Linked DNA regions of Homo sapiens. The protein of the gene in region 2 interacts with the protein of the main gene of each other region in a pairwise test. Each region holds a gene or a part of one and is shown on either strand. Other genes may lie near its edges.

What was found. Proteins that work in one complex are often made in the same cells at the same time.
Region 1: the proteins of NUDCD2 (region 2) and NEK8 interact in binary tests that used the Homo sapiens proteins (3 or more experiments, as listed by UniProt).

Annotation. Positions count from the first base shown.
Region 1 is NC_000017.11:28,738,731-28,743,955, reverse strand, and holds the end of NEK8 (serine/threonine-protein kinase Nek8), read right to left. Parts: coding exon 5,209-5,225; intron 4,873-5,208; coding exon 4,755-4,872; intron 3,494-4,754; coding exon 3,343-3,493; intron 3,135-3,342; coding exon 2,971-3,134; intron 2,879-2,970; coding exon 2,720-2,878; intron 2,544-2,719; coding exon 2,385-2,543; intron 1,998-2,384; coding exon 1,969-1,997; 3' UTR 501-1,968; downstream 1-500. UniProt on the Homo sapiens protein: Required for renal tubular integrity. May regulate local cytoskeletal structure in kidney tubule epithelial cells. May regulate ciliary biogenesis through targeting of proteins to the cilia.
Region 2 is NC_000005.10:163,445,970-163,450,103, forward strand, and holds the end of NUDCD2 (nudC domain-containing protein 2), read right to left. Parts: 3' UTR 557-4,134; downstream 1-556. UniProt on the Homo sapiens protein: May regulate the LIS1/dynein pathway by stabilizing LIS1 with Hsp90 chaperone.

The DNA of each region.
Region 1 (5,225 bases), on a different chromosome or scaffold from region 2:
CCGCGGCCGCGCGGTCCTAATGCGCGCCCTCGCGGCCCCGCCCACCCCCGAGTGCATGGTTTTTGGGTCTGGTGACCGCCAGTCTCGCCCACCCACGGGATCATGGGCTTTTCTTTCCCCTGGGGGACAGAGATCGTGGCTCCGCTTCTCCCCAGAGCCCGCGGGCCCCGGGGAAGTGCGGGTCGGAAAAGGGGACGGGCCGCGCCACAAAGGTTTTCTTCTCCAGAGGCAACAGCTCGGCCTCCGGGGCCGTGAGCAGCCCAGGAACCGTGGCCCCAGCTTCCAGGTGCTAGGCAGCCGAAGCCTGGCAACCAGCTCCGGGGAGCCCAGCTGGGGCGGGGAGGCTGGACTGGGCGCTGGGCCAGAGGAACCTCGGCCCCAGCCTCCGGCTGCGCCCACATTCCTCCCTTGGCCGCAGCCCTGCCACCGAGGTCGGGCCCAGCCCAGTCCTGGGGTGCCTGGTCGCCACCCCCACCCTTGAAGACACCACACTCCAGGCAGGCAGCTGATATTTTTATTGGCCTTCCTGTCCTCTGGGAAACCGGTCTGGTCCCACCAGCTACCCATTCTCTCAACTGTTTCTGGGGAAAGGCATGGGGGGGACGGGCAATCTCCAGCGCGGATCTTTTCTGCAGCACTTAGTGACTCCTGCCCTCCTGCTGGGGAAGAGAGGCAAGCCGACGTCTAGCAAATCCTGCCTCAGGATGAAAGTGTAGGGGAGGTGGCAGCACTCCCGGGGACCGCCCAGCCCCGGGCTATGCAGAAGCTAGGCAGGCCTAATGGCCAGTCCAGGCAGGCCCTGGCTTGCCCTGCTCCAAAGTATGGAGATAGAGTCCCGGTAAGCACCAAATACTTTTTTTTTTTTTTTTTTTTTTTTTTTTTTGAGAGGGAGACTTGCTCTGTCATCCAGGCTGGAGTGCAGTGGTGCGATCTCGGCTCACTGCAAACTTCACCTCCCGGGTTCAAGGGATTCTCTTGCCTTAGCCTCCAGAGTAGCTGGGATTACAGGCGCCCGTCACCATGCCTGGTTAATTTTTGTATTTTTAGTAGAGACGGGGTTTCACCATGTTGGCCAGGCTGGCCTCAGTCTACTGACCTCAAGTGATCCGCCCGCCTTGGCCTCCCAAAGTGCTGGAATTACAGGCGTGAGCCACCGCACCCAGCCTTATTTTCTTCTTTTTTTTTTTTTTTGGTGGAGACAGCGGTCTCGCTATGGTCCCCAGGCTGGTCTCCCAACTCCTGGCCACAAGGGATCAAGGGATCCTCCTGGCCAAAGCACTGCCTATGCAGGTGTGAGCCACCGCCGCCGGCCCAGACTTATTTTCTAACTGGGCTAGGGGAAAGGGTAGGGTCTGTGTGGAGCTACAGCTGCCTTCAGCCTTTTTTGTTTTTTTTTTTTTTTTGAGACGGAGTCTGGTTCTGTCGCCCAGGCTGGAGGGGTTTACGCCATTCTCCTGCCTCAGCCTCCTGAGCAGCTGGGACTACAGGCGCGTGCCACCACGCCCAGCTAATTTTTTTGTATTTTTAGTAGAGATGGGGTTTCACCACGTTAGCCAGGATGGTCTCGATCTCCTGACCTCGTGATCCGCCCGCCTCAGCCTCCCAAAGTGCTGGGATTACAGGCGTGAGCCACTGCGCCCGGCTGCCTTCAGCCTTTTTATGGCAAGGCTCTGGAGGCCACCCTGCTTCCAAAGGCTAGGTCTGCCTTCTAACTCTAGCCAGGCTGGACCCTGGGGACACTGACTGAAGGGAGGAAGGGGTAGGAAGGGCAAAGAGGTGGTAGGAGAACAAAGTGGTTGAGGTTTCCATATCCAAGGCCAAAAGCAGAGCAGGGGTTTTGCCAGCCCTGATACCCCATGATGACACAATCCAGGAGACAGCTGCAAGTCATGCCTTGGGCACCTGCACTTTTCAGAGCATTCAGAGGAGAAGCAATATCAGGGTGGTCCAGAGGTGAATCCGGGTGCCTCAGGGGGGGACCGGCTCATCTGTGACCGCTGGAGGGTACCGAAGAGAAACCCTTGCAGCTTCTGAGGGCAGTGCCTCCAGAAATCATCACCCACCTCCCACTCCCACTGGGCCCTGGATTCTGGACCCTGTTAGGCCAGAAAGAGAGTTTCAGCATCAACGGGACTCAGCAGTAGGAGAAAGAATGCATGTGAGCCCTGGGGAGCAGTGGAGGCAGCCCTTCCATGAGGCCCAAGAAGCACCAGCCTTGGCCACCCCAGGCAGGAAGCTTGAAGCTTTTCAACCGCAGCTTCTGCTTTTTTTATCTGGGGGCTAAAGATGCTTTTGGTGATGTGGCCATCTGTGAACACTGGGGATGGGAGTGTGGACAGGGGCCAGCTGGGCTGTGTGGTGAAGTGGGAAAAGTTACAACTCACATCGAACAGCCAGGAGGGTGTTTCCATGGCAACAGGACACGGAAGTCACCGTGTAAGGGTGTGTCTCATCCAACTGCACTGGCCGAGGGAGTCCGGCATCCTCATCCCTCCTTCCCAATCGACCTCGCGCCCCTTTGCCCCAAGAGTACACTTCGCTCTCTGCCAGGAAGAATCCCCAGGAGGGAAGTGGGAAGTGGGCACAGCCCGAGCAGGATCTCCCCTCCCACATTGCCAGGATGGCCCCTGGGAGGCTCCAGAGTCCAGTGGCCCTGAATAGCAACCCCCACCCCCCACTGCTCATGGCACTGTCTGCCCCCACCATGCTCAGTCCTCACCTGCCCCAATAGCTACAGTGAAGGCATCCCCACAGGCTACCATTGCCATCTTGATGCCCTCAAGGCCTTGGACCTTACAGGGTGCCCGACTGCCTCGGCGAGTATTGGTGCCCAACTGTCCGTGCTGATTGCTGCCAAAAGTGTAGCAATCACCCGAGGCTATGGGGGAGAGGAAGGAAAGGGGTGCTTCAACAGGGTACCAAGGAGACCGTGAGTCCCCCTCTGACCTCCAGAGCCCAAGTCCTCCTCACCAGTCACAGCAGCTGAGTGAGCAGTGCCCAGGTCTATACTCAGCAGAGGCTCCTGGTCCAGGGGTGCAGAGCCTAGTAGTGTGAAGCTCAGGGCCTCCTCCACTTGCTGGTGGGGGACAGGCTCCTCCCCCAGGGAGAGGTGGTCCAGGCCCAGCTTGTTGAACCTGAGGGCAGAGCCAGAAGCCAAATCCAACTGACAGACAGTTTGGGCAGGAGCTGGTGCACCAGGAGACAGATCCCACCCTGGGTTGAACCAATAGCACCCTCAACCCCCTCAATTCTGGTCTTTGGTGAAAGGTAGGCAATGATGGACGGAGCACTTGCAGCCAAGGAGAGCCAGGGGCAGGTTAGTCATCCTGATGATCTATTCACCTGTTGCTCCCACAGGCTAGGGCTTGGCCAGGCACAGTGAGGATCATGGAGGAATCGATACCACATACAACTCGCTGAGCTTCCTGTCCTGGGGGCATGGGCACCTGCTGGGGGCAGCTGTGGGACTCCCTGGTGCCTAGCCCCAGTCTGCCTACAAGAAGAAACCCAGAAGGAGTTAATTTGAGCTTTAGTGGGGGTGATGCCCGAATGAGGAGGGCCCACTGAGGGGAGGGAACAGCATGAGTTCTCTGTTCTCTCAGTCCCAAATGCCTTTCCTAGGCCCCTCTGCTGGTTAAAATCCTCCTTCTTTATTTTTTATTTTTATTTTTCGAGACTGAGTCTCACTCTGTCGCCAAGGCTGGAGTACAAGGGTATGATCTTCACTCACTGCAACCTCTGCCTCCTGGGTTCAAGCGATTCTCCTGCCTCAGCCTCCTGAGTAGCCGGGATTACAGGCATGCACCACCATGCCCAGCTAATTTTTTTATTTTTAGTAGAGACGGGGTTTTACCATGTTGGCCAGGCTGGTCTTGAACTCCTGACCTTGTGATCCACCTGCCTCGGCCTCCCAAAGTGCTGGGATTACAGGCGTGAGCCACCACGCCGGCTCAAAATCCTCCTCCTTTAAAGCCCTGTTCAAATGACATCTCTCTCCTCCAGTTGACATTACTGTTCACTGAATTCCACGCCTCTGCACTGGGGTGTAGCCCTGATGCTATCTGTTCTCTGGCATGCTGGCAATGTCATCTTTCTCCCACTAGACTGAGTCCTCCAGGAAGACAAGAACCCATCAGTGTCATCTCTAGTTTCAGTGGCCAGCCTGATGCCTGACCCAAAGAGGACCTCAATAAAAAAAATTAGTGGATGGGCCAGGCGTGGTGGCTCACGCCTGTAATCCCAGCACTTTGGGAGGCTGAGGCATGTGGATCACGAGGTCAGGAGTTCGAGACCAGCCTGGCCAAGATGGTGAAACCCTGTCTCTACTAAAAATACAAAAATTTGCTGGGCGCGGTGGCGGGTGCCTGTAATGCCAGCTACTTGGGAGGCTGAGGCAGGAGATTCGCTTGAACCCGGTGGTGGAGGTTGCAGTGAGCTGAGATCACGCCACTGCACTCTAGCCTGGGTAACAGAGCGAGACTCCATCTCAAAATAAAATAAAAAACTAGGTGGATGAATGAAATTTCCTTCATTACCTCATAAACACCTGAAGGAAGCCACATCTCCATCTCATCTCAGCACCCAGCACAGGGTGTGCACATAGTCGGTGTAAAATAAAGGTTTGTTGAATGAATGAAGAGAATTTGAGAGAAAAGAGGGAAGAGAGAATGTGCTGTGAGGTGGAAGGTGGGTATGAAGGGGAGCAAGTCATGGCTGAGGATGCTGTGAGATGGGGCCTAAAGGCTGGAGCTTACCGCTGTCTCCACGGCCCCAGGCAAATAGTTCTCGCTCAGTGGACAGGGCCAGCACGTGAGAGGCCCCACAGGCCACCTGCACCATTTCATAGCCCAGCAAAGCCTCCACAATGGTGGGCTAGAGAGGAGAGGAAGCAAGGAGAAACTGGGCAAAGGGTCTGGAGCCATCTGGCTTCAACACCCCCTGTAGGGACAAAGCTGGAGGCTACACATTCTCAGGAGGTGGCTGTGTCTTTAAATCCAGCCATACACACTGCCAGGTGGGCAACCATTGGGGAAGCCTGGTTTTTCTGTACTTTCCCCGATGTAGGTGGCCCAGAGCAGGTGCAGCTGGGAAGCTAGAGGAACCTGTGGTTGCTGGGAACTCCCCTGCCCCCAATCTGGTGTCAACTCACAGATGTGGGCTCCCCGCCATCCCCCGACTTCCCCTTCCCAAGGTATATGTGACACCCACCTGGCTGATGTCAGTGA
Region 2 (4,134 bases):
TGCTAATGCCAGGTAACCACCATGTGTTATGTTAGCCTGCTTGGATCAATTGTAATTATTACTGGAATTGAATTAATTAATATGATTTTGAACAGTTCATGTTCAAACTAACATCCTGTAAAGTAGACACTGCAAGGAGTTACTGATGAAAGAAAAGTTGTTCATAAAAGAAGCCTCCTTTTATAATTGACTTGCCTTAGACTTATTTAATAATGTTTCATAGTATTTTTTAAAAAGTATCTGAACCTTGTACATATTTACAATTATGAGACATCCTATCTAAAAATTTATATTTTCGATTTAACATTTGTGGCTGGCAGTGATAATTTTTACTCTCTGGTACTATGAATCATCTCATTAAAATCCTCTCAACTGAATGACATTATCCCAATTTGCAAATGAAAGAGAGACAGAGAACCTAATGATTTGCCCCTGGTCTATACCTGGTACTTGGAGGTAGGATTCAAAGCCAGGCAGTTCTGACTCCAGAGGCTGTGCTCTTAACCACTCTATACATTACCTCTCAAAATAAAAGATTAATTGGACTCAAGTGAAATTGCTTGTATAATTTTTAATCAAAACTATATGCTGGCCACATTAACTTCTGTGCTGTCATCATGATCATAGAATAATAACAACACTCAATTTATTTCTCTATACTAATAACTTTGATAAAATGTTATTATTTATTAAATCTATTTTTCAGAAACCAAAAAACAGTAAACATGAGTCAAGATGAATTAAAAGATAAGCCAATTTTTAAGGCCGAGCGCAGTGGCTCACACCTGTAATCCCAGCACTTTGGGAGGCCAAGGTGGACGGATCACTTGAGGCCAGGAGTTCGAGACCAGCATGGCCAACATGGTGAAACCCCATCTCTACTAAAAATACAAAAATCAGCTGGGTGTGGTGGCGCATGCCTGTAGTACCAGTTACTCCAGAGACTGAGGCAGGAGAATTGCTTGAACCTGTGAGGCAGTGAGACAAGATCACACCACTGCTCTCCAACCTGGGCAACAGAGTGAGGCTCTTGTCTCAAAAAATAAATTAAAAAGCCATTTTTATATTCATCAAAGTAGAGTTAGGAACAACCAAAATTGCCAAGGATAATTAGGGACATTATATAATGATAAAATTCACCAAGACAGTGCTAAAAGTGTAAGCACTTATTATCAGATCTTAAAAATACATGAAGAGACCAGGTACAGAGACTCATTCATTCCTGTAATTCCAATGCTTTGGGAAGCCAAGGTGGGAGGATTGCTTGAGGCCAAGAGTTCAAGACCAGCCTACTCAACATAGGGAGACCCTATCTCTACAAAAAATCAAAAATTAGCTAGGCATAGTGATATACATCTGTAGTCCTAGGTACTGAGGAGCCTGAGGTGGGAAGACTGTCTGAGCCCAGGAGTTTGAGGCTGCAGTGAAGCATGACAGAGTTGCTATGCTCCAGCCTGAGTGACAGGGTAAGACTCAAAAAAAAAAAAAAAAACATGAAGCAAAAAGTGGTAGCATTAAAAGGAGGACTGGACAAATCTTCATTTACAGTTGGAAACTTAAACATTCCTCTCTCAGTAGTCCATAGAATTAATAGAAAATTAGCAAAGATGTAGGAAAATGGAATAATACTAATAACCAGCTAGATTTAATTGACATAAAACCCTTCTACCTAAAACAGCAGAATAAGCATTCTTTTCAAGTACACATGGAACACTCACCAAGATAAACCACATCATGGGTCTTAAACCTTAACAAATTTAAAAGAGATGAAATCATATAAAATATGTTTTTTGACCATAATCTAGAAATCAGTAACAGCAAGAAAATCTCCAAACACTTGGAAATTAAACAACACATTTCTAAATAACTCATGATACTACAGGGAAGTCTTAAAAAATATTTTAAAATAAATGAAAATATCACCGTGCTTGGAATGCAGCCATGCTGGTGCTGCAATTTATAACAATCGACTGCTTTTTACTAAACAAGAAAAAGTTCTCAAATTAACACTCTAAGCTCCCACTTTAAGAAAGTAGGAAAATCTAACTGGGTGTGGTGGCACACCACTATAGTCCCAGCCACTCAGAAGGCTGAGGTAGGAGGATCATGACCCCACGAGTTTGAGGCTGCAGTGAGCTATGATCATAACACTACTCCAGTCTGGGTGATGAAGTGAGACCTGTCTACAAAAAAAAGAAGCCCAAACTAAACCTAAAGCAAGCAGAAAGAAGAAAAAAAAAAAAGAGGCAGAAAATAAATGCAATTGTAAACAAATTAATAGAAAACAATCAAAAAACTAATTTTTGAAAAGAGCAGTAAAATTGATAAACCTCTGGCAAAATTGACAAAAAAAGAGAAGGAATTCCAATCTTTGATTCCAATCTTAGGAATCAAAGAAAAGATAACAGTATAGATCCTCATTAGAACGACACAAAGAAAATACCATGAACAACTCTATGCACATAGGATTAGATGAACCAATTCCTTGAAAGGCATACAGTACCCAAACTTAAATAAACCTCAATAAATTCTCTATTTTTAAAAATTGAACCATTGTTTAAAACCTTACTAGCAAATTCATAAAACATTTAAAGATATAACAAATTCTACAAATCTCTTCCAGAAAGAATAATCACTTTGCAATTCATTTTACAAGACCAGAATTAACATGATACCATACCAAGATAAAGATAACACAAGGAAAAAACAAACAAAAACAATTGCACAATATCCAAAATGAACACAGACATAAAAATCCTCAAAAAATAAAAATCTAGATACATAAGCTGAATAATGTACCATGACCAAGTTTGGGGTTGGGAGGAAATATAAGCTGTTTCAAAATTCTGGAATCAGTAAAATCCATGATTTTAACAGTCTAAACAAAAAGAATGACCAAACTGATACAGAAAGAGCATAGAAAATTCAGCATCCACTCATGAAACTCTGCTAACAACAAATTAATAGATGGGAACTTGCTCAACATGACAAAGGGAATTTAAGAAAAGCCTACAGCTTGCATACATAATGGTCAAAAACAATGCTTTCAAAATCCTAAGATCCAGAACAAGACTGAGATGGCCACTTTCTCCATGTTATTGTTCTGGCCACTGCAATCAGGCAAGAAAAATCATAGACTAAAAAGAATAAAATAAAACTGTTCCTATTCGTAGTTTATGTAGAAAACTTAATGAGTTAACAACAAAATCAGGCAAGAAAAATCATAGACTAAAAAGAATAAAATAAAACTGTTTCTATTCGTAGTTTATGTAGAAAACTTAATGAGTTAACAACAAAATAACTCCCAAAACTAATGAAGTTTAGCAAGGTCACAGGATACAAGGTCAACAAACAAAAATCAAACACATTTGTACATACTAGCGATGTGCAATTGGAAACCCATGTTTCAAAAATAATACAACTTAACAATAGTTCCTCCAAAATGAACACTGTGGAATATATGCTGAAAAATGACATAAAATGCTGATAACTGAAATGAAAGAGGTCCTAAATAGATACCTCATGTTCATGGATTGGAAGACACAAAATTGCATTCAAAACCCCAGTAGGATTTTTTGTAGATACAGAGTAGCTAATTCTAAAATTCATATGGAAGGCAAAGAAACTAAATTAGCCAAAACAATTTTGAAAAAGATTTCAAAAAAATTTTGAAGGAATCATGCTGCCCAGTTTTAAGACTTACTATAAAGCTGTGATAATCAAGGCAATCTGGTATTTATGAAAGGATAAACACATAGATCGATGGAATAAAGTCCAAAACCAGACTCACATAAATAGCAATTGATTTCTGACAAAGGTGAAAAGACAACTCAATGGGGAATGGAGAGTTTTTCAACAGACGATTTTAAAACAACTGAACATCCATATGCAAAAAAATAAACCTACCTAAATTTCACAGCTTATACAAAAATTAACCTAAAATGGATCACGGATCTAAATGTAGAACTAAATTTATAAAATTTTTAGAAGAAAAAAATCCATAGGCCGGGCACGGTGGCTCATGCCTGTAATCCCAGCACTTCAGAGGCTGAGGCGGGCAGATCCGTTGAGGTCAGTTCAAGACCAGCCTAGCCTATATGGTGAAATCCCAACTCTACTAAAAATAAAAAATAA